Regions from separate parts of the Homo sapiens genome. Here region 1 is linked to region 2. The links come from fine-mapping of genetic effects on gene expression. A gene starts in region 2. The other region holds a variant in brackets. All regions are shown on one strand. Distances are from middle to middle.

What was found.
Region 1: its variant is fine-mapped to the expression of E4F1 in whole blood (TOPMed, PIP above 0.99).

Annotation. Positions count from the first base shown.
Region 1 is chr16:2,030,418-2,041,969 of GRCh38, reverse strand. It overlaps NHERF2 (NHERF family PDZ scaffold protein 2), which reads right to left. Exons shown (of 7, transcript NM_001130012.3): 3 at 5,467-5,646; 4 at 5,089-5,242; 5 at 4,972-5,015; 6 at 4,370-4,432; 7 at 2,944-4,144. The coding sequence ends at 3,986. NTHL1 (nth like DNA glycosylase 1) reads left to right here. Exons shown (of 6, transcript NM_002528.7): 5 at 1,732-1,837; 6 at 1,923-2,150. The coding sequence ends at 2,046. Among named protein-coding and RNA genes, the nearest start is that of NHERF2, 9.3 kb to the right of the region's middle. RefSeq lists enhancers at 4,740-5,322, 8,827-9,411. The variant C/G (reference allele first, on the strand shown) is at 5,659.
Region 2 is chr16:2,217,076-2,228,627 of GRCh38, reverse strand. It overlaps E4F1 (E4F transcription factor 1), which reads right to left and starts at 5,037. Exons shown (of 14, transcript NM_004424.5): 1 at 4,858-5,037; 2 at 105-256. The coding sequence starts at 5,014. RefSeq lists enhancers at 2,847-3,347, 4,603-4,742, 4,973-5,142, 8,073-8,697 and silencers at 4,823-4,912, 5,203-5,342.

The DNA of each region.
Region 1 (11,552 bases), 190 kb after region 2:
ATCAGCCTGGCCAACGTGGTGAAACCCGCTCTCTACTAAAAATACAAAAATTAGCCGGGTGTGGCCAGGCGTGGTGGCTCACGCCTGTAATCCCAGCACTTTGGGAGGCCGAGGCAGGCAGATCACGAGGTCAGGAGATCAAGACCATCCAGGCTAAGATGGTGAAACCCCGTCTCTACTAAAAAACACAAAAAATTAGCCAGGCATTGTGTCAGGCGCCTGTTGTCCCAGCTACTCGGGAGGCTGAGGCAGGAGAATAGTGTGAACCTGGGAGGTGGGGCTTGCAGTGAGCTGAGATCGCGCCAGTGTACTCCAGCCTGGGCGACAAAGCGTGACTCCGTCTCACCAAAAAAAAAAAAATTAGCCGGGCGTGGTGGCAGGAGCCTGTAATTCCAGCTCCTCGGGAGGCTGAGGCAGGAGAATCGCTTGAAACCCAGAGGCGAAAGTTGCAGTGAGTGGAGATCGCACCATTGTCTGTATCCAGCCTGGGTGACAGAGCAAGACTCCGTTTAAAAAAAAAAAAAAATGCCACAGCCATAGATTGCTGGCTCCGGTCCCAGCTCTGCACCTCCTGGCTGGGTGACTCTGGGCCAGGCCCTTGGCTTCTCTAAGCTCTGGCCACAAAGTGGGTGAGGCAGTCCTCGTCATTCACTGTCCAGGTGGGCAGGAGGCTCACACAACGTGACGTGGCCTGACTCAGCCTTGAAGCATGGCCACTTCCGTGTTACAGAGGAGGAAACTGAGGCTCAGAGCCCCAGGGGTGTGACCCCTCAGGCCTTGTGGTCTCCCCACACCCTCGGACACCTTTTTCTAGGCAGCAGCGAAGGAGCTGGTGCAGGCCTCGGCTTTCTCTTTGGGAAACACGGGAGGAGGAGGCAGGGCTGGGGCTGCAGCTGGCCGGGGCCACCGGGTGGGAGAAGGGAGCCCCAGTGAGCAGACGCCTGGGGTGGCCAGCTGAGGGGAGCAGGAGCCAGAACCCAGGTGGACAGCAGCTGCGGCCGGCCAGGGCATGCTCCCGCTGTGTCCCTGACCGCTGCAGTGGCAGGTGCTAGGTCTGCAGGCAGTGACCTCATGCCGGCCTGCCAGGCAGAGCTGTTGCCACCCAGCCTGGTGCCCAGAGCCAGTGCTTATGCCGAGAGGAGCCTCAGGCCACAGGAGACAGACAGAGGGAAGCCTGGATGGACCCTTCCGGGGACAGGGCCACGTTCCTGGGGAGGCTGAGGGCTGAGAGGTGCTTCGGAGTCGGGATCCTGCCGGGCCTCGGTTTCAGCATCCGTAGGACCTCATGAGGACTCACTGAGCTGGCCAATCTCTCTGGCAGGGTCTGGCCCCCAGCAAGCGTTTGTCCAAGCGAGCTGTCGCTGTTATTGTGGGGAATAGAGCTCCAAGCAGAGCCGAGTCATCACCCCCAGGCCCTGCCCAAAGCAGAGACCCCACCACCCACACATCCAACTAGCACCAGTGTTGGGAGTGGGCAGCCCAGAACAGAGCCCCCCAGGCTGGCTCAGGTGATGGGAGAGAGGCCTGCACCCCAACAGAGGGCTCAGCCCCTGCCCCAGCACCTCAGGGGCAGCCAAGATGGTCACATGTAGGCTTGCAGCCAGGGCTTTGCGGTTCCAATGTCTAACTGGAGGGCCACGGGGGTGGTGGCAGACTCGCCTCTGGGCGGGGAGGGGCACGGGCTAGGCTGGTGGAGTGTGCCCCTGTTCACCCCGCTTGGCCTCCCAGCAGCAGTGGACACGCATGTGCACAGAATCGCCAACAGGCTGAGGTGGACCAAGAAGGCAACCAAGTCCCCAGAGGAGACCCGCGCCGCCCTGGAGGAGTGGCTGCCTAGGTATGAGTATGTGGGGGGCTTCCTAGGGAGAAGAGCTCACCCCGCCCGCCCTCTGTCAGCACTGACCCAGCCCCCACCCCCACAGGGAGCTGTGGCACGAGATCAATGGACTCTTGGTGGGCTTCGGCCAGCAGACCTGTCTGCCTGTGCACCCTCGCTGCCACGCCTGCCTCAACCAAGCCCTCTGCCCGGCCGCCCAGGGTCTCTGATGGCCGCATGGCTCTGGCCGAGGTGCCGCTGTGGCCACCGTCTGTGAAGTGGCTTTACGCTTCAGGAAGCCACGCCTGTTGAATAAAGCTTTGGTGTGTTTGCAGATGGGATCTGGCTGATGTCTGTCCCTGAGGGGGCAGAGAGCCTGGGAATCGCATACAAGGATGTGTTCGTACACACCCGTGCTCGCGTGTCTGGAGCAGGGCTGCCTGGGAGGCCGGCTGGGGACGTGACAATCTTTGCTATGTACTCAGGGAGGGGGAGGGGGTGTGCATGAACCTGGGAGGGAGGAAGTGGGGAGAGCCAGCTGCAGCCAGCTGTTGGAAGTCCGCTGGGGAAGCAAGCAGCCCCCGGGCAGCTGGCTGGGGACCCTGGCCCCTCATGCTATCCACCGCCGGCCCCCCAGCTTCCCAGCCCGGACACCGCCAGCTCCTGAACTTTCATGCCCTCAAAGCCCAGCCTCTGCCAGGGTCCCACCCCTGTTTACAGAGCTACCCGGCCTTGAAAGGGACACTGGGGACCCAGGCAGGGCGCCACAGGGTACAAAGCTTGACCTGTGACTGCTAGAGGTCGCAGGGTGAATTGGGCAAAGGGTGGCCCGTGTGGGTGTTGTGTGGGGCCGGATGGCTTCACAGGGAAGGTGAAGGTGGGAGGCTGAGTCTGCCAAATAAGAGAGATGGGCATGGGCCCAGGATGTGCCACACAGCAGGGGGTCCCATGGGGGTCAGCGGGGGAGATGGAGCAGGGCTGGGAGCAGATGGATGCAGGGCACGGGCTCAGGAACGAGACCGTTTCCAGCTGCTGAGACTCGGGGAGGGGGCTCCCTGAAACAGCCTCATCCCTCCACCCCTCTCACCCCACGGGGAGGAGGCTCAGAAAAGACAGAGGCGTGTGGGTCCCAGGCAGGGCCTGTTTATCCTGAGAGCGCGCATGCGCTATGGCTTACGAGGCAACAGCGGTGCCGGTCGATCGGTGGTCGGTTCGGGGGTGCGGGGCCCGGGAGGGAAGTGCAAAGTCAACAGGGTGTCCACGGGGGAGCCCGCCAAGCAGGGCTGAGCCAGAGGCCAGGCGTCCTTCCCGGGTGCCGCTCTCACACACCTACGTTCCCCAGGCCTGGGAGCTGCCGCGCGGAATGAGGGGCCTGTCCAGAGGCCGCCCTCCTCGGGGACGTGGGGCCTCCATCCTCAGGCCCCTCGGAGAGCCCAGGCCCCCAGCAGGGCACAGGCGCACAGGGTAGCTGGGTGGGGAGCAGGGTGTGGCCTAGGGACCCCCACACCAGGGCAGGTGGGCAGGGGCAGCTCCTACGGCCACATCAGGCCTCCCTGGCCTTACCCAAGGTCCCCACGAAGAGGCTGGGCGCCCCAACTTGGCCACTGGGAAGTCCCAGGGACTCCCACTCAGGACGGCCGCTGCTGAGGGGAGGGGGCGGGGAGGAAATGGTTTGCAGAGAAAGGTTTGTTTTATTGCAATTATTTAGAGCGCGTCCCAAGGGGGAGGGGAAGGGGGAGGGGAAGGGGGGGGGTCTCTGGTATTAAGTGGAAACATGTGTGGAGCTGGAGATCTTTTTGGAAAAAAAGCAAAAACACAAATTCCTTTCAGTCAGCAGGCCCCGGCAGAGCAGCAAAGGCCCTCGCCCCGCGGCTGCCGCGCGCTCGCTCGCTCTCTCTCTGTCTCTCTCTGTGTCTCTCTCTCTCTCTCTCTGTCTCTGTCTCTGACTCTCTCTCACATCTCTGGGTCTCTCTCCCCCTATCTTGCTGCCACAGGCCCCCAGTACCTGGTGGGCAGGGGCAGGATGGGGGCTCACCGGGGCTGGGGCTGATTTCTGGGCAATGGCAGGACCACCCTCCAGTCCACTGAGGCTGGGGGAGCTCGGGGCAGGCTGAGGCCCAAGGTCCGTGCGGGAGGGGTCCCAGGGTCCCGAGACAGGCAGGAAGGGGCTCAGAAGTTGCTGAAGATTTCACGCTTCCTGTTCCAGTCCATCTGTGGCGCGCGCTTGTTGACTCGCATGGCTCGAGCCTTCTCCTTGGCCTCGGCCGCCGTGGGGCTCAGGTGGAGGCCGCTCTCCTGGAAGGGATCTTGCTTCCAGGCACTGCCATCCTGGGGTGAGCACGGTGGGTGGGGTGTCTGGAGTGAGCCCTAGTCCCACACCCCAGACGGTGGCCCCTCCTAGGGAGCAACCAACAGAGGCTGCCTGCTGGGGCTGGGGCTCACGAGGACTTCCTGAACAGAGACCCCACTGCCCGGGCTGACATCTCCACAGACGCCTACCCCAAGGCCTCTAGCAACCCCACGTGTGAGCTCAGGAGTGGAGAACATCCATACCTCAGTGTCCTTGTCGGAACCAGGCAGGTCACTTCGGGACGAGCACGCAGAGCCACCATTGAGCTGGGAAACCAAGGGCAGATTGTGGTTTCACAGACACACACAACACCTGCACACGCACACATGTGCACAGAGGCACACCCCCCCCCAGTGTGTGCTCCTCCACTCGGCAGGGGGCCTCGGGCCTCTGGTGGACTCCAGATGCGGCGGGGCAGGCACCGGGCGCCTGGCAGTGACAGGCAGGTGGCCTGGCCGGCTCATGGTGCAGAGGGGGTTCAGGTGCAGGAATGGCCGGCGTGAGCAACGCCTGGGGTGAGGCCACCGCCAGCTCCCTGAGGAGGCAGAGACTGGAGGGCAACTCCTTACCAGGTGGTGCCCAGGAGAGGACAGAAGGCAGTGGCCCCGACCCCAGGGGCCCCACGTGGCTTGTGTGTGGCACGACCCAGGATGAGACCCACAGGGGCATTAAAGGGAGGTGACAGGGCTAAAATCGGGTGTCACTAGCACACCTCGAGGACGGATCTCCAGGGAGAAGGGGGCCTCTGTCGGGCCTGGGTACCCCCAGAGGCACCCTGTGTCTCATGGGCACCCCACCCTCTTACCTGGGCAGGGCTGGTTCCATTGGTGACGGGTGACGGCAGAGGACCTGTGGGGACAGCGTGTCAGTGGCTGCTCAGCCACCACACCGCACCCACCCTGTGCCCTGGGCCGTGGCCCACCTTCCACGTGCTCCTCGGTGGGTGTGACCCGAAGCCGCTTGAAGTGTTCATCTGTCTCGGGGTCCACGACCAGCAGCCGGGCCTCGTCCTCCCGTGCCTTGATGCTGGCCACCACCTCAGCATGGCGCAGTCCCTCCACATTCTGCCCGTTCACCTGCCGCCACCAGCATGTATCAGCCCCGCCATGGGCCCAGACAGCCCCCAACGCCGCGTGGCCAGGTGTGGCATCAAATATTCATCACAGCCACCGCCCACCGAGGCAGCAGGAGGCGCACCAGCTCAGGTTCCCAGCGTCTCCCTCCTCCCTGCAAGGACCCAGGGCCCCAGTGTGGACAGGTGCGGGGCACTCGGCACCCCGCAGCCCTGGTGGGCCGGTACCTCAATGAGCCGGTCCTGGGCGCGGAGGCCAGAGCGGGCGGCAGGTGAGCCCGGGTCCACAGAGCGGATGTACTGGCCGGGCCGGGACTTGTCACTATGCAGGTTGAACCCATAGCCCTGAGGTCCCTTTCGCAGGTGGCAGAGCCGAGGGCGCAGCTCCCTCAGGGGCCCACTGACATCCTGCAGGCCCAA[C/G]GGACAGGGTCAGTCTCTTGCTCCAGCCTCCCGCCTCCAGAGGCCACTCCCCGGTGGTGCCGCCACTGCCCAAACTCGGTACCGTGCCCCCCACGGGCAGGCCCAGGTCTCAGTGGCAAACACTCCGGGCACCCAGGCTGCCTGTGACAGAGCTTTAGCTGTGGGAACTTGGGCAAAGCCTGTTTTCAAACCCAGAAGCCTCCCCGACGGGCCCAGCCGCCTTCCCGGGTTGCTGGGAGAATTCCTTTGGCTCGAGGCCAGCGTGGCGCACAGGCAGGGTGGGAGGAAGCACCAGGTGGGATGAACTGTCGCCGTTGGCCTCCTGGGGCGGTTGTCCCTGAGGGCTCTGCCTGTGCGTCCCCCTGCCCCGGGCTCTCCTCCAGAGCGTGGGGCAGGCGCTCCTAGGCCAGCAGTTTTGTTTTCTCTCCAGAGGCCTCCGTGGGGCTGGCTGCGGTGGCGGCTCTGTTTGCTTTCACATTCCAGGAAAATGAGCCGCCCCACCCCCGTGGGCCCAGCAAGCAGGGGCTGGGGCAGGAGCTTAGTGTGGACAGGGCACAGAGGGCCTCCTGGTGCCCGGAAGGACCCCCCGCTACCATCCCAGGCCCTGCCCCATGTTACCTCTGGCATCCTGCGGTAGGGCTCTGGGCCAGGGGACCATGCAGGCAAGGCCAGGCCCAATGACCACCTCCCAGCCAGGGGGTGGGCCAGGGTGCGGCGGCGGTGGCCAGCGGCTGCCCGTGCTCAGTTAAACATGGCGGTGGCCGGAGCAGGCAGGAGGCAGCTCAGGTTTCCAGGGAGCGCCAAGCTTGAGGGCGTGCGCAGGGGAGACTGTGCAGGCGGGCTGGGGGCTGCCAGGGCCCTTCCCTCACCTCCTACCTCCCTGTGTGTCCCTGAGGGACCACAGGCCAGGCCAGGCCAGGGCTGGGGCGGCATGGCAAGGGGGCGCTCAGACCTCAGGAGGGCAGGTCTCCAGGCCTCAGACACCCCCAACCCCTCCAGCCACCCACCTTCAAGCTCGCTCCAAACCCCAATGGACCAGAAACGGCCATGTCAGCGGGGGGGACCGCCCCGCCAAGGGAGCAAGGGGGTCCTTCTCCACACAGCTAGTGCTCTGTCCCCTGGGCTCAGGACCTGCCCTTGGTCTGGAACACCCTTCTCCTGTCCAGCCTGCCAGATGCCTCATCTGAAGCCTCCTGCCCACCCTCTGAACCCTCTCTGCATGGCCACCACCCAGCCCGTCACACCAGAAACTCCAGGGACAAGCCTGTGGCTCCCTGGCCCCACAGGGGCTCAGCTGGGCCACATGGGCTGAATTAGAGGGTGCAAGACCCCCAAAATCTCCAGGGCCCCACCACATAGACTCACTCCTCCCCCAGACACACCTGGTGGCACAGGCGTGGGGCTTCAAGGCTGACCCTGACACCTGCCCACCAAAGTGCCCCTCAGGGATGCAGTCACAGCACGGCCCCCAGGCTGGCCTGGGACGCAGGGAAGGCGTGGGGACAGGAGTCCAGTTCGGGAGGGGAAGTGGAGCACAGCCCCCAGGCTGGCCTGGGACGGAGGGAAGGCGTGGGGACAGGAGCCCAGTTCGGGAGGGGAGGTGGAGCACGGCCCCCAGGCTGGCCTGGGACGGAGGGAAGGCGTGGGGACAGGAGTCCAGTTCGGGAGGGGAGGTGGAGCACGGCCCCCAGGCTGGCCTGGGACGGAGGGAAGGCGTGGGGACAGGAGCCCAGTTCGGGAGGGGAGGTGGAGCACGGCCCCCAGGCTGGCCTGGGACGGAGGGAAGGCGTGGGGACAGGAGTCCAGTTCGGGAGGGGAGGTGGAGCACGGCCCCCAGGCTGGCCTGGGACGGAGGGAAGGCGTGGGGACAGGAGTCCAGTTCGGGAGGGGAGGTGGAGCACGGCCCCCAGGCTGGCCTGGGACGGAGGGAAGGCGTGGGGACAGGAGTCCAGTTCGGGAGGGGAGGTGGAGCACGGCCCCCAGGCTGGCCTGGGACGCAGGGAAGGCGTGGGGACAGGAGCCCAATTCAGTGGAGGAGGTGGGAGCGTGATATGGGCCCAGTCCGCAAAGACACATCACACAGCCACAGACACAAGACGTCCACACACACCTGCAAACACGCACAGCAGCCCACACATGCGGCCAGCCCCACAGTGCTGGCCCGGCAGCCCTTCCCACGCCTGCACAGCGGCCTGCGGGGCAGGGTTTCTCAGGGCACCAGACAGGAAGCAGGATCTGGTGGGTGTCTGGGGCCCTGAGGCCAGGCCAAGGACCCCTCAGTGTTCTCAGGGTCATTCTGGCCACCCCTCTGCCTCTGTCCAGAAGCAGCCGTCTTTCACTCTACAAGGCAAGAAGTTCTGCCTATCAAACCTAAACCCCTTCATTGTCAGCAGGGTCCCAGTGGCGCCAGGCACAGCACTAAAACCTCAGGTGGAGGGGCTGCAATGGAGGGGCCAGGGTGGGCTGCTGGCAGCACATGGGCTCGTGGGGAAGGGGGGCCCAGAGAGCCGAGGAGCTCGGGCGGCGTTCATAGCTCACATTCCTCCTCCCTGCCCTGGCTCAGCACACACTTCCTGCCGCCTCCCGCCAGGCCCTCGGGCTCCCACGGGCTCCAGGCTCCCTCCCTGCCGGCGGCCAGCACAGAGCTGGACCATCCCTGGTCCCCCAGCCATGCCTGTGTCCGGACAAAGAGGCTGGCATGGGGGTACCCTGGGCACCCCCCCAGATGGTGACGCACCAGCCCTGGCAGAGAAAGGCCTTCATTGTTGCTCAGCGACCAGCCTGCTTACATCAAGGTCCCGGAGTCCCCTCCTTCCACCCCGGGAGGCTGAGCGGCTGCCGGTTCCTCCTAGCCCTCCCTTCCTCCCACCCCACCTGACCTGTACCAGCCTCTGGGGTGGGCTCCGTGGAGGGGCTCCCGGAGCCCGGGCAGGTGGCGTGGCACTCCCGGAGCGTGCCATGACAGCGGCACAGTGACAGCAAGTGGCAGGCGTCCGGCCGGGGTGGCCTGAACTCTCTGGCCGACCCAGGCTGCCACCCCACTTATCTACCTCCCTCTGCGGCCCTGGCTCCCCGGGGATGGGTGGGGACGTGGGGGCTGAGTCACTCTGGGGAGCAGGGTGATGACTGAGCCCGCTCCCCTGCGAAGGCTCCAGCCTGGCGCCCCCCACCCAGCTAGGCTTCCGTCCCAAGAAAGGAAGGAAGGAAGCTGCTGGAAGGCCCTGCCCTGCCCCAGGACCCAGGGCTGAGGGGACAGGGAGGAGTCCCGGCCCCAGAACACAGGACGGTCCTGTTGAGGCTCCAGAGGAGCAAGAGCCAGGGAAGCCCGGAAGCCCCCGCAGGCACCGCGCCCCAACCACACAGCCGCCTCCCGCAGAACTGTCACCCCTCACACCTGCTCTTAGCCCCCAAGGCCCTCCAGATGGGGGTGGAGACATGGGCTAGGGGCAGGGGGCAGAGGGCTCAGGGTCTGCCACCACCTCCAGGGCCTGGCACCGCTGGCCACCCCGTCTCTGTTTGGGGGCTGTCCCCTGTCGTCACTACTAGGATCAGCTGCACTGCAGCTGCGGCCACCCCCAGCCTGGTGTGGCCCAGGGCTGAGTCATCACTAACTAGGCCTTCACGGCCCCCAAAAGGAGGGGCCAACCACATCAGTGTCCTCCCCTGCCCACCTCCCCTATCCCCAGCCAGGACAGAGGACACTGAGAGCCACCCTTAGCTCCCAGGGGGCACCCAAAGTTGGGCCCTCTCCATCCTTCACCAAAGACAAACTACACACATCCCTTCCAGAGCTCTGCCTCTCTGCCACCAGTGCCCCCACTGGAGCCATCCCCGCAAGGTAAGCTTTGCCCTCCTGGGCTCCCTGACCATCTGAGGCATGCCCTGAACCCAGGCTGAGAAGGGCAGGATCTGAGCCTGCTCTGTGGAGGTCAGGTGAGGCCCACCTCTTCCTGCCCATGCTGGGAGCTCAGGTGAAGAAACCTCAGGTCCTGAGCCAGGCGCAGGGGCTCACACCTGTAATCCCAGCACTTTGGGAGGCTGAGGCAGGCGGATCACTTGAGCCCAAGAGTTTGAGACCAGCCTGGCCAACACGGTGAAACCCTGTCTCTACCAAAAACACAAAAATTAGCCAGGTGTGGTGGTACACGCCTGTAATCCCAGCTACTCAGCAGGCTGAGACATAAGAATTGCTTGAACCCAGGAGGCGGAGCTTGCAGTGAGCCGAGATCGCACCACAGCACTCCAGCCTGGGCGACAGAGTGAAACTCCGTCTCAAAAAAAAAAAAAAAGAAAGAAAGAAATGAAACCTCAGACCTCAGGGGCCGGGTACAGTGGCTCACACCTGTAATCCCAGAACTTTGGGAGGTCGAGGAGGGCAGATCACCTGAGATCAGGAGTTCGAGACCAGCTTGAGCAACATGGTGAAACCCCGTCTCTACTAAAAACACAAAAATTAGTCAGGTGTGGTGGTGCGCGCCTGTAATCCCAGCTACTGGGGAGGGTGAGGCAAGAGAATCGCTTGAACCCAGACAGCGGAGGTTGTAGTGAGCCAAGAAAGAAAAAGAAAAAGAAACCTCAGGTCTTGATGCCAGAAGAGAGAAGGGGAGACCCTGTTCCTTGGGTGCCCCCTGACCTCCTGGAGCCCCTGTCCCCAGCCAGACTCATGCACAAAGGGACCTGCCACTCAGGCCACCCTTTGTTCCTCTAAAAATACACCCAGAGGAAGCCCCTCCTAGGGCTTCCTGCAGCCCCCAGAGCCTGAAATAGCAGAGGGGGAAGGTCCCACCCAAGGCAAGGTGCCTGGGCCACTGCACCCTCCAGATAAAGTCCGAGGGCCGGATTTTTCCACAGGAAGGTGAACCATGCGTTTGTGTCCAAATCAATGGACAAACGCCTGAGGCAGAGGGGGAGCTTCCTCCTGGGGGAGGGAAGGTGGCTGGGAAAGAGGGAGGCCCCAACCCTCAGCCTGGAGACAGGGGCTTAGGACCAGCCAGCCCCCCTGCAAGGCCAGCCCCCCCACCAGCCCTGGGCTGGGCACCTTGGCCCTGAGCACCACTGTGGCCCGCCCTCAAGCCCCAGGAACAAAACGGGTCCCACAGGTCCCACGGGCAGGCCTGCGCCCAGGCTGGGCTCCCCACAGGGAATGCTGTCTCCCTGCCAAGCCGCTCCCCCCGGGCTCAGCTCCTAGGGGCAGCCAGCTTCAGCAGTGACGTCTGGGAAAGGGAGAAAGTGAATGTGTATATCCCCTGCACCCTCAGAACTCCAGATCCCACACCCCTGCCCCAAGCGCGGTTCTCACAGTGGGGTCTGGCCAACCCCTGGACTCATATCCCCTGAAGGGATTTCTTTCTTTTCCTTTTTTTGTTTTTTTTTGAGACAGTCTCACTCTGTCGCCTAGGCTGGAGTGCTATGGCGGGATCTCGGCTCACTGAAACCTCCGCCTGCCGGGTTCAAGCGACTCTCCTGCCTCAGCCTCCCAAGTAGCTGGGACTATAGGCGTGCCCCACCATGCCCAACTGATTTTTGTATTTTTAGTAGAGACGGGGGTTTCACCACATTAGTCAAGCTGGTCTCAAAATTCCTGACCTCAGGTGATCCACCCATCTCAGCCTCCCGAAGTGTTGGGATTACAGGCGTGAGCCACCGCACCCGGCCAGGGTTCTCTTTGAAAATGAAAAAAAAAAAAAAAAAAAGGTAGGAGAGAACATGGAGATAATGCCATCAGGGCCTCCAGGAAGATAAGACAGACAGCTTCAGGCTGTTCCTCCTGGTCCCCAAGGCCTGCCAGGCCGCCCCTCCCAGTCGGCCACCTAGCAGGAGGTGGAGCAGGCCGCCCCTGTACTTTTCTGGGTCTCCTGGCTGGGAGCAAGGGCAGGGGAAGGAGGAAGTACTAC
Region 2 (11,552 bases):
CGTGGCCCCCGGAACCGGCTGCACAGGTCCATCCTGAAGCGCGGCCACCTCCCCCACCTGTCAGGTGAACCCGGGAGGGGATGGGGGAGTGGGTGAGGGCTCACCTCCTGGCCCAGCAACGCTGTGGTGGCAGGGGTGGCAGGCAGGGCCTCCGGAGGGGCCCGCTGGCAGGCCTTCTGAATCTTGTGCTGAACAAAATCCTCCAAGGCGGTGAACTCTGCCTGGCAGCGGCCGCATCTGTGCACATCGTCCTCATCTGCAACGAGCCTGCTGTCAGCAGGGCCTGGGAAGGCGGAGGCTGGGCAGCCAGGGCTCCGTCTGGCTTTTCCTCCAGCCCTAGAACAGATTCCCCCAGGAGGCCATCAGAAGCAGAGCTACTTCCCCAGGCTGCTGAGAACACACTCGGGCCCAAAACAAGGTCATCCCAAGGTACAGCCCCTATCCTCTGCAGGTCTGCAGGGGCCAGACCCACCCTCAGGAGGTCAGCACCCAGCAGAGGGTGGCCCTGACAGCACGCTTAGGCTGCAGGGACCTGCTAAGGCTGCCATGCTCAAAACCCACCTCAGCGACTGACAGGCGAGAGGCCCAGAGAGGGGCTGGGAGGCAGAGGGACTCCTCCATGCTAATTTGGGGACAGTAAAGGACCAGGATTTAAGACTGCTGGGGCCGGGCATGGTGGCTCACACTTGTAATCTCAGCACTTTAAGGGGCCAAGGTGGGAGGATAGCTTGAGCCCAGGAGTTCAAGACGAGCCTGGTCAACATAGCAAGACCCATCTCTACCAAAAAAAAAAAAAAAAAAGTTTTTAAAACATTGTTAAACATTTAGGCTGGGTGTGGTGGCTCACACCTGTAATCCCAACACTTTGGGAGGCTGAGACAGGTGTATCACCTGAGGTCAGGAGTTCGAGACCAGCCTGACCAATATGGTGAAATCCCATCTCTACTAAAAATACAAAATTAGGGCGGTGGCTCATGCTTGTAATCCCAGCACTTTGGGAGGCTGAAGCGGGCGGATCATGAGGTCAGGAGATTGAGACCATCCTGGCTAACACCGTGAAACCCCGTCTCTACTAAAAATGCAAAAAACTTAGCCAGGCATGGTGGCAGGTGCCTATAGTCCCAGCTACTCGGGAGGCTGAGGCAGGAGAATGGCATGAACCCGGCAGGCAGAGCTTGCAGTGAGCCGAGATCACACCACTGCACTCCAGCCTGGGCGAAAGAGCGAGACTCCGTTTCAAAAAAAACAATATTAGCCAGGCTTGGTGGCGCATGCCTGTAATCCCAGCTATTCGAGAGGCTGAGGCAGGAGAATCACTTCAACCTGGGAGGCGAAGGTTGCAGTAAGCCAAGATCTCCCCATTGCACTCCAGCCGGGGCAACAGAGAGAGACTCCATCTCAAAAAACAAAACCAAAAAACAAACATTTAGCCAAGCGTGGAAGTGTGGCGGCATGCACCTGTAGTCCCAGCTATTCAGGAGGATTGATTGAGCCCAGGGGTGGAGGCTGCAGTAAGCCATGATCACACCACTGCACTTCAGCCAGGGCAACAGGGCAAGACCCTGCCTTAAAAGAAACAAAAACAAAACAAACAAACAAAAACTGCGGGAGTTTGAGCGTGCCCTGGAGCATGTGAGTGGCCATCTCCTCATCTGTAAAATGGGCTGGGGCCCAGGAGACTGATGCCCACTGGCTCTGGCTGAGAGGCAAATGCAGGGAGCTGACCCACAACCACTCTGCTCACTGACTTGGGACTTTACTGGTTCCCAAGGTTGAGCCCGTCACCATTGCTGTGCCGGACCCCGGTCGTGCAGAAGAGACCACCCCCTCACTGTGTGCCAAGCACCTCACTGGGGACGTCACCAAATCTTGCCAGCACCCTGTGGAAATGGAGAGAACTATTCCCATCCTAGGAAAATGACCTGAAGTTCAAGGTCACCAAACGGCTGAGTGTCAGGGACAGTACCTGTTTACACAAAGGGATAGGAGCTGTTTCTTCTGCTTCCATAAAAGCCTGCCAGCTCTGACCATTCACCTTCAGTCCCTCGGCAGGATCAAACCCAGGCCTGATGCCCGAAGGAGCTGGGCAAATGTTTACTGTTGAATTTGAGGGCGGAGAAAGGGCCAAACCACAGCTATGACTCGCCTGCAGGGGCCACCCAACAGAGTCGTCCTCTCCTGATGGCTCCCAGTCACAAACCAAGCTCTAAGGTGCCCACCACCCTCTTCCCCTTCCCACCCTACTCCTGTGTCTCACTCGGCTCCAGGGCATTGCCACTGAAGAACCCCCTACCCCAGAAGGGGACACACCCAGCCCATTTCACACCAGACAAGGCCACAAGCAGGCCCAGCAACCTCTAAAGGGACTCCTCGCCATGAGGGCACTGCCCTTCTCCAAGCTGGAACGAGAAGGGGCAAGGAAAAAAGGCAGAGACTATGAATCCTATGGGGACAAAGACAAGACCACCCTCAACCCAATCATTAACAACCTCCCTTCCTGTCTGACCCAATCTGCATCTTTTTTTTTTTTCTTTCAAGGCGGAGTCTCGCTTTGTTGCCCAGGCTGGAGTGCAGTGGGGCGATCTCAGCTCACTGCAAGCTCTGCCTCCTGGGCTCATGCCATTCTCCTGCCTCAGCCTCCTGAGAAGCTGTGACTACAGGCGCCTGCCACCACGGCCAGCTAATTTTTTGTATTTTTAGTAAGACAGGGTTTCACCTGTTAGCCAGGGTGGTCTCGATCTCCTGACCTCGGGATCCGCCCGTCTCAGCCTCCCAAAGTGCTGGGATTACAGGCGCGAGCCATTGCGCCCAGCCTTTTTTTTTTTTTTTTTTTTTTCCTAAACAGAGACTGGGAGGAGCCGGGCACGGTGGCGCACGACTGTATTCCCAGCACTTTGGGAGGCTGAGGCGGGCAGATCACCTGAGGTCGGGAGTTCAAGACCAGCCTGGCCAACATGGAGAAATCCAGTCTCTACTAAAAATGCAAAATTAGCCGGGTGTGATGCCGCGTGCCGTAATCCCAGCTACTCAGGAGGCCGAGTCAGGAGAATAGCTTGAACCCGGGAGGCGGAGGTTGCGGTGAGCCGAGATCGCACCATTGCACTCCAGCCTGGGCAACAAGAGAGAAACGCCGTCTCAAAAAAAAAAAAAAAGAAAATAGAGACGGGGTCTTACTATGTTGCCCAGGCTGGTCTGGAACTCCTTGGGCTCAAGTGATCCTCTCACCTCAGCCTCCCAAAGTGTTGGGGTTACAGGTATGAGCCACAGTGCCCAGCCATCTGCAGCCTCATAGGACAAGCTCAGAGGGTACAGACCCAAGCTCCATCTCCAAAAGCTCTCAGTGCCCCCAGGAATGAGCCCTTAGTGCATCCCCAACACTGCTCTCGGCACATGACACACAATCTTTTTTCTTTTTTTGAGACAGTCTTGCTCTGTCACCCAGGCTGGAGAGCAGTGGTGCGATCTCGGCTTACTGCGACCTCCGTCTCCTGGGCTCAAGCAATTCTCCTACCTCACCTTCCCAAGTAGCTGGGATTACAGACGCGCACCACCACGCCCAGCTAATTTTTGTATTTTTAGTAGAGAAGGGGTTTCACCATGTTGGCCAGGCTGGTCTCGAACTCCTGACCTCAGGTGATCCACCCACCTTGGCCTCCCAAAGTGCTGGGATTACAGGCGTGAGCCACTGCGCCTGGCCACAATCTTTATTTTAATTCCCATGATGCTTCTATGAGGCAGCAGAGCCCGGAAGTTAAAGGGGCTGTGAAGGCCTTCACAGTGCTGAGATCCAATCCAACCCTTGCTACTTAACTACCTGGGTGACCCTGGTCATTTTCTTTTCTTTTGAGACGGAGTCCGGCTCTGCCGCCCAGGCTGGAGTGCAGTGGCGCGGTCTCGGCTCACCGCAAGCTCCACCTCCCGAGTTCACGCCATTCTCCGCCTCAGCCTCCCCACTACAGGCGCCCGCCACCACGCCCGGCTAATTTTGTTTTTTTGTATTTTTAGTAGAGACGGGTTTCACCATGTTGGCCAGGATGGTCTCCATCTCCTGACCTCGTGACCCGCCCGTCTCGACCTCCCAAAGTGCTGGGATTACAGGCGTGAGCCACCGCACCCAGCCCACCCGGTCACTTTCAGGTCTCCAACCTTCGATTTTCCTCATCCCCAAAATGAGAATAACAATAACATCCACCTGTCAGGACTGGTTTGAGAATGAAAAAACCTAAAGCAGGATAAGGGCTTGTTACATTACTGGCAGAAGCCGCCGCCCCATTCTGTAGGGGAAATAGAGGTTCACAGAGGTAGGGTCACCTACCCAGGATCAAAGAACTAGAAAGCGGCAAGTGTGGGACTGGAAGGGGCCACAGGCTGGCTGCAGTGCACCAGCCCTCTTGCACTAGGCTCTGCTGCCTCCCTACGGACAGGCCCAGAGCCCAGATCCTGGAGAAACCGAGGCCCCACCCTCTTGGAACCACCAACAGGGCCCTAGACGCCCATCAGGTGCAGGAGGAAGGGGCCCAGAGGAGGGGAGGGCCAGGCTCAGGCATCGGAGGCAGAGAAGGGCCGGGACGCCGGCGTCTGCGAATGTCTACACCGGGCGCCCGGGGGCTCAGCAACCCGCGAGCACTTGTGGACGCACACCAGAGAGGGGGGATGACAGGCGCCCCGCAGGAGAGGCCCGTGAGGGTCGCAGCAAACCTGGGGGTTTCGTGGAGGGCTGTGAGGGTCCCGCGAGATCCGCGAGGTGTCTGGGTCTGGGAGGGTCGGTCGAGCCCGCAGCTCGGGCCATCCGGGCCTCTGCCAGCCCGGGATGAACTGCCCGCACCCCGGCCGCACCCTCCGGGTCGGCCCGGTTACCTTCCTCGCTGAAGGGCGCCGGGAGGCCGAGGAAGCCGCTGGGGGCCAAGGCCGCCGCCACCGCCGCAACTGCACCCTCGCCCGCTTCCCGCCCGGCTTCGGCCTGGGCTTCTGCCGTATGAGCGGCCGTCACCCGCACTGCCATCGCGCCCTCCATGTCGCAACGCGCCGCAGGAAGATGGCGGATTTACGACCATGTCGTCATAACAACGGGCCGCGCCGAGGCCAGCGTGAGGGAACGGCAAGAGGAGGGCGGGGCAGAACCGGAGCGGATTGACGGACAGGCGGGGAGCCGGGCCTGGATAGCGGTGTGGCCTTAAAGGGCAGAGGCGGGGCCGGGCGCGCTGAGAGCGAAGATGGGGCGGGACTGTGGGGAGGGCGTGGTTACGGTGGAGCAGATTGCCAGCCAGGGGGCGGGGCGGCAGAAGGACCTATGTTCGAGGCTGCACTCGGATTTGAGAGCCAGAGAACGCGAGGGGCGAGCGGACTGGCGGCTGCTAGGCAGCCGCGCCCCAGCGCTTCCGTACCTAAGGACAGGTCGCCCCGCCCGCGGCTGCTGCTGGGAAGCCGCCACAGCTCCAACCAGGGGTGTGGTGCCTGCTGCCCACTGACCGCCTAGGGTGTTAGAGCCTCCCAAGATGGTTACCCGGGTCACGGGAAAAGAACACGGGTCGGGGATGGCTCATGGGTAGCTCTGCGAAGCTGTTTTATTCTTTTATATACTTTTAATTTTTTTTTCTTTCTTTTTTGAGACGGAGTCTCTTTCTATCGCCCAGGCTGGAGTGCAGTGGCGCGATCTCGGCTCACTGCAAGCTCTGCCTCCCGGGTTCACGCCATTCTCCTGCCTCAGCCTCCTGAGTAGCTGGGACTACAGGTGTCCGCCACCACGCCAGGCTAATTTTTTGTATTTTTAGTAGAGACGGGGTTTCACCGTGATAGCCAGGATGGTCTCGATCTCCTGACCTCGTGATCCGCCCGCCTCGGCCTCCCAAAGTGCTGGGATTACAGGCGTGAGCCACCGTGCCCAGCCACTTTTTAAATTTTTTAAAATTTATTTGCATTATGTATTTTAAATAGAGACAGGGTCTTGCTGTTTAGACTAGGCTGGTCTCAAACTCCTAGCCTCAAACCATTTTCCCATTTCGGCCTCCCAAAGTGCTAGGATGACAGGCGTGAGCCACGACTCCCAGCCACGTTGAATTTTTGGTTTTGGAGATGGGGGTTGTTTTTGGTTTTTGTTTGTTTGGGGTGTTTGTTTTTGAGACAGAGTCTCACTCTATCACCTAGGCTGGAGTGCAATGGCGCGATCTCACTGCAGCCTCCGCCTCCTGGGTTCAAATGATTGTCCTGCCTCAGCCTCCCGAGTAGCTGGGACTACAGGAGTGCACCACCATGGCCAGCTAATTTTTGTATTTTTAGTAGAGACAGGGTTTCACCATGTTGGCCTAGATGGTCTCAAGCTCTTGACCTCACGATCTGCCCGCCTCGGCCTCCCAAAGTGCTGGGATTACAAGCATGAGCCACCGCGCCCGGCCTGTTTTTGTTTTTTGAGATGGAGTCTCGCTCTGTCACCTAGGCTAGAATGCAACGGCACGATCTTGGTTCACTGCAATCTCCGCCTCCCAGGTTCAAGCGATTCTCCTGCCTCAGCCTCCTGAGTAGCTGGGACTACAGGCAACTGCCACCACACCCGGCTAATTTTTTTATATTTTTAGGAGAGACGGAGTTTCACCATGTTGGCCATGCTGGTTTTGAACTCCTGACCTCAGGTGATCCGTCCCCCTTGGCCTCCCAAAGTGCTGGGATGACAGGCATGAGCCACCGAGCCTGGCCAGATTTTTTTTTGAAACAGCACCTTGCTCTGTCGCCCAGGCTGGAGTGCAGTGCCGTGATCTCAGCTCACTGCAGCCTCTACCTCAACCACCCAAGTAGCTGGGACTACAGGTGCCCATCACTAGCTAATTTTTGTATATTTTGTAGAGATGGGTTTTTGCCATGTTGCCTAGGCTGCTATAGAACTCCTGAGTTCAAGCGATCTGCCTGCCTCAGCCCTCTTACATACTTTTAAAAAATTGTGGGCCAGGCACAGTGGCTCACTCCCGTAATCCCAGCACTTTGGGAGGCTGAGGTGGGTGGATCACCTGACATCAGGAGTTCAAGACCAAGCAGGCCAACATGGCAAAATTACGTCTTTACTAAAAATACAAAAATTATCTGGGTGTGGTGGTGCACGCGTGTAATCCTAGCTACTCAGGAGGCTGAGGCAGGAGAATCGTTTGAACCTGGGAGGCAGAGGTTTCAGTGAGCCGAGATCGTGCCACTGTACTCCGGCCTGGGCAACAGAGCAAGATTCCGTCTCAAAAAAAACTGTGGTAAGTGCACATAAAATTTACTATTAGCGACATTCACAGTGTTGTGCAACTATCACAGCTATGTGGGTACAGAACCTTTCCGGCACCCTGAAAGGAAACCTGTGCCTTTGAAGCAGTGATTCCCCATCCGCCCCTCCCTGCCAGCCCTGGGTAGACGCCAGTCTACCTTCTGCCTCCATGATAAATTTACCTGTTGTGAACATGTCCTACAATATGTGACTTTCATTGTTTGTTTTTTGAGGGTCTCACTCTGTCATCCAAGCTGGAGTGCAGTGGCATGATCTCGGCTCACTGCCACCTCCGCCTCCCGGGTTCACGCCATTCTCCTGCCTCAGCCTCCGGAGTAGCTGGGACGACAGATGCCCGCCACCATGCCTGGCTAATTTTTTTGCATTTTTAGTAGAGATGGGGTTTCACCATGTTAGCCAGGATGGTCTTGATTTCTTGACCTCGTGATACGTCCGCCTTGGCCTCCCAAAGTGCTGCGATTACAGGCGTGAGCCACTGCGCCTGGCCCTGTTTTGTTTGCTTTGAGATAGGGTCTCACTCTGTCACCCAGGCTGGAGTGCATTGGTGTGATCCTAGCAGCCTCCACCTCCAGGCTCAGGTAAGGTGATCGGCAGTCAGGTTGGGGTAACAATGGGCCCGCTTTCTGCAAGTAGGTTGCTCACCACTGCAAGGTTTTGAGCAGAGGGAATGATGGTGGGTGTTGCAGAAACATCCCTCTAACTGCTGCACAGAAAAAGGGACTTTAGGCCGGGCCCAGTGACTCACGCCTGTAATCCCAACACTTTGGGAGGCTGAGGCGGGCAGATCACCTGAGGTCAGGAGTTCAAGACAGCCTGACCAATATGGTGAAAGCCCGTCTCTAGTAAAAATACAAAAATTAGCCGGGTGTGGTGACGGCTGCCTGTAGTCCCAGCTACTCGGGAGGCTGAGACAGGAGAATGGCCTGAACCCGGGAAGCGGAGGTTGCAGTGAGCCGAGATCTCGCCACTGCACTCCAGCCTGGGTGACAGATCGAGACTCTGTCTCAAAAAAAAAAAAAAAAAGGGGATTTTAGGGCTTAAGCAGAAGCAGGAAGGGGCTCAGAAAGCCACTGAGAGCCAGAATGGGTGGTCTCTGAGTGGGGCAAACAGAACGAAGAGCAGGTTGGAGCTTTTGGAGCTTGAGGGTTCTGGGGAGCTGCTGGGGAGGAGGACCAGGAGACAGGTGGGTGAGGTGAAGCCATGGAGGAGGTGAGTGCAGAGCCCCAAAAGACCTCCATTCATGGTGTGCTGAGGAGTAACTGAGAAGCCGGTATCCAGGGGATTTAGGGGTATGGATGGGATGATTGTCCCCTCTAAACTCATGCTGAAACTTTATCCCCAATGTAACAGCATTAAGAGGTGAGGCCTTCAGCCGCCCCATCCGGGAGGGAGGTGGGGGGGTCAGCCCCCCGCCCAGCCAGCCGCCCCGTCCGGGAGGTGAGGGGCGCCTCTGCCCGGCCACCCCTACTGGGAAGTGAGGAACCCCTCTGCCCGGCCACCACCCCGTCTGGGAGGTGTGCCCAACAGCTCATTTAGAACGGGCCAGGATGACAATGGCGGCTTTGTAGAATAGGAAGGCGGGAAAGGTGGGGAAAAGATTGAGAAATCGGATGGTTGCCGTGTCTGTGTAGAAAGAGGTAGACATGGGAGACTTTTCATTTTGTTCTGTACTAAGAAAAATTCTTCTGCCTTGGGATCCTGTTGATCTGTGACCTTATCCCCAACCCTGTGCTCTCTGAAACATGTGCTGTGTCCACTCAGGGTTGAATGGATTAAGGGCGGTGCAAGATGTGCTTTGTTAAACAGATGCTTGAAGGCAGCATGCTCCTTAAGAGTCATCACCACTCCCTAATCTCAAGTACCCAGGGACACAAACACTGCGGAAGGCTGCAGGGTCCTCTGCCTAGGAAAACCAGAGACCTTTGTTCACTTGTTTATCTGCTGACCTTCCCTCCACTATTGTCCTATGACCCTGCCAAATCCCCCTCTGTGAGAAACACCCAAGAATGATCAATAAAAATAAAAATAAAAATAAAAATAAAAATAAAAAAAGAGGTGAGGCCTTTAAGAGGCAAAGGGGGCCGGGAGCGGTGGCTCACGCCTGTAATCCCAGCACTCTGGGAGGCCGAGGCAGACGGATCATCTGAGGTCAGAAGTTTGAGACCAGCCTGGCCAACACAGCAGAAACCCCCATCTCTATTAAAAATACAAAAGTTGGGCCGGGCACGGTGGCTCATGCCTGTAATCCCAGCACTTTGGGAGGCCGAGGCGGGGGGATTAAAAGGTCAGGAGTTCAAGACCATCCTGACCAACATGGTGAAACCCCGTCTCTACTAAAAATACAAAAATTAGCCAGGCCTGGTGGCATGTGCCTGTAATCCCAGCTACTCAGGAGGCTGAGGCAGGAGAATCGCTTGAACCTAGGAGGTGGAGGTTGCAGTGAGTCGAGATCATGCCATTGCACTCCAGCCTGGGCAACAGAGCGAGACTCTGTCTCAAAAAAAAAAAAAAAAAAAAAAAAAAGTTGCCGGGCGCGGTGGCTCACGCCTGTAATCCCAGCACTTTGGGAGGCCAAGGAGGGCGGATCACGAGGTCAGGGTATTGAGACCATCCTGGCTAACATGGTGAAACCCTGTCTCTACTAAAAAAAAAAAAAAAAAATCAGCCGGGTGTGGTGGCACACGCCTGTAGTCCCAGCTACTCGGGAGGGCGAGACAGGAGAATCGCTTCAACCCGGAGGCGGAGGTTGCAGTGAGCCGAGATCGCGCCACTGCACTCCAGCTTGGGCAACAGAGCGAGACTCGGTCTCAAAACGAACAAAAAAAAAATACAAAAGTTAGCCAGGTGTGGTGACACACACCTATAATCCCAGCTACTAGGGAGGCTGAGGCAGGAGAATTGCTTGAACCTGGTGGGGCGGAGGTTGCAGTCAGCTGAGATGGCACCACTGCCCGCCAGCCTGGGTAACAAAGTGAGACCGTATCTCAAAAAGAAAAGGGCATCCTGATCAGGTGACCTCAGGCCCTGCTTTGCCCAGAGCCCAGGCCACTGGCAAGCATGGGAGTGGATAGACCCTTGGAAGGCAGAGAGGCCAGGCACAGGCAGCAAGACTAGACCCTCCCTTTCTCCAAACGGCCTCCTTTCCCATGCAGGCCTCAGCCTGGCTCAACAGAATAATGCCTGTGGACATTCCACAGCCAGACCCAAACAGGAACTACAAAATCCTTTTTTTTTTTTTTTTTGAGATCGAGTCTCACTCTGTCACCCAGGCTGGAGTGCAGTGGTGCAACCTTGGCTCACTGCAACCTCCGCCTCCTGGGTTCAAGCAATTCTGCCTCAGCCTCCCAAGCGTGTGCTACCACGCCCGGCTAATTTTGTATTTTTAGTAGAGATGGGGTTTCTCCATGTTAGTAAGGCTGGTCTCTAACTCCTGACCTCAGGTTATCTGCCCTCCTCGGCCTCCCAAAGTGCTGGGATTACAGGCGTGAGCCACCGCGCCTAGCGGGCTACTTATATTTTCTATTGCAATGTAAATTGATGCAACTCTGTTAAGGTGAAATAGTGTCTGTTCTCGTGCCACTGAAAGCCATCCCCAGGTCGGCTTGCAGTACAAGATCCTTACTTGGGGAGACACTGGGGCCATCCCCTCACAGATAGAGACTGAATGCCTCCTGTGTGGGGGGCACCCAAAGGGGTCCTCTAGCCCCAGATGCAGGGCCACATCACCCTGTTCCCAAAGTCAGTCCTCTCCTATAAAGCGCACTTTCCTCCCAGCCTCCGCCAGGACCTTCCCCACAAGTGACCATGCCTCCCCTCCTACCTGCACACATACAGGCATATTCTGAGGACGTTAAGCCGACCAGATGGGGCAGAGCTCAGCTTTGGGGTTGACTGAGTTTAATCCCAACTCAACCTTGTCCAGCCGGCGACTCTCGGTGGCTCAGTTTGGCCATCTATAAATGGAGATGTGAATAATCCCTGCCTCTCAGGCCTGTCCTGTGACTCTGAGGAGGTAATGCAGGGAAGGAGCGGTGCAGCGGCCTAGGTGCTCACAGAGTGCCCAGGAAGCCAAGGCAGCCGGGCAAGTGTGGGAGAAGATGGCCCATGGCTGGGTATCATCAACAGTTCCCATTCCAGCCGTTGTCTCAAATCAACTACCTGTTGCTCTGTGGTAAAAGCAGAGTGTGATTCTTGTCAAATCCAGTTCTGCTCAAAGTCAAAGTCATCTTTTTTTTTTTTTTTTTTTTTTTTGATAGGAGTCTTGCTCTGTTGCCCAGGCTGGAGTGCAGTGGTG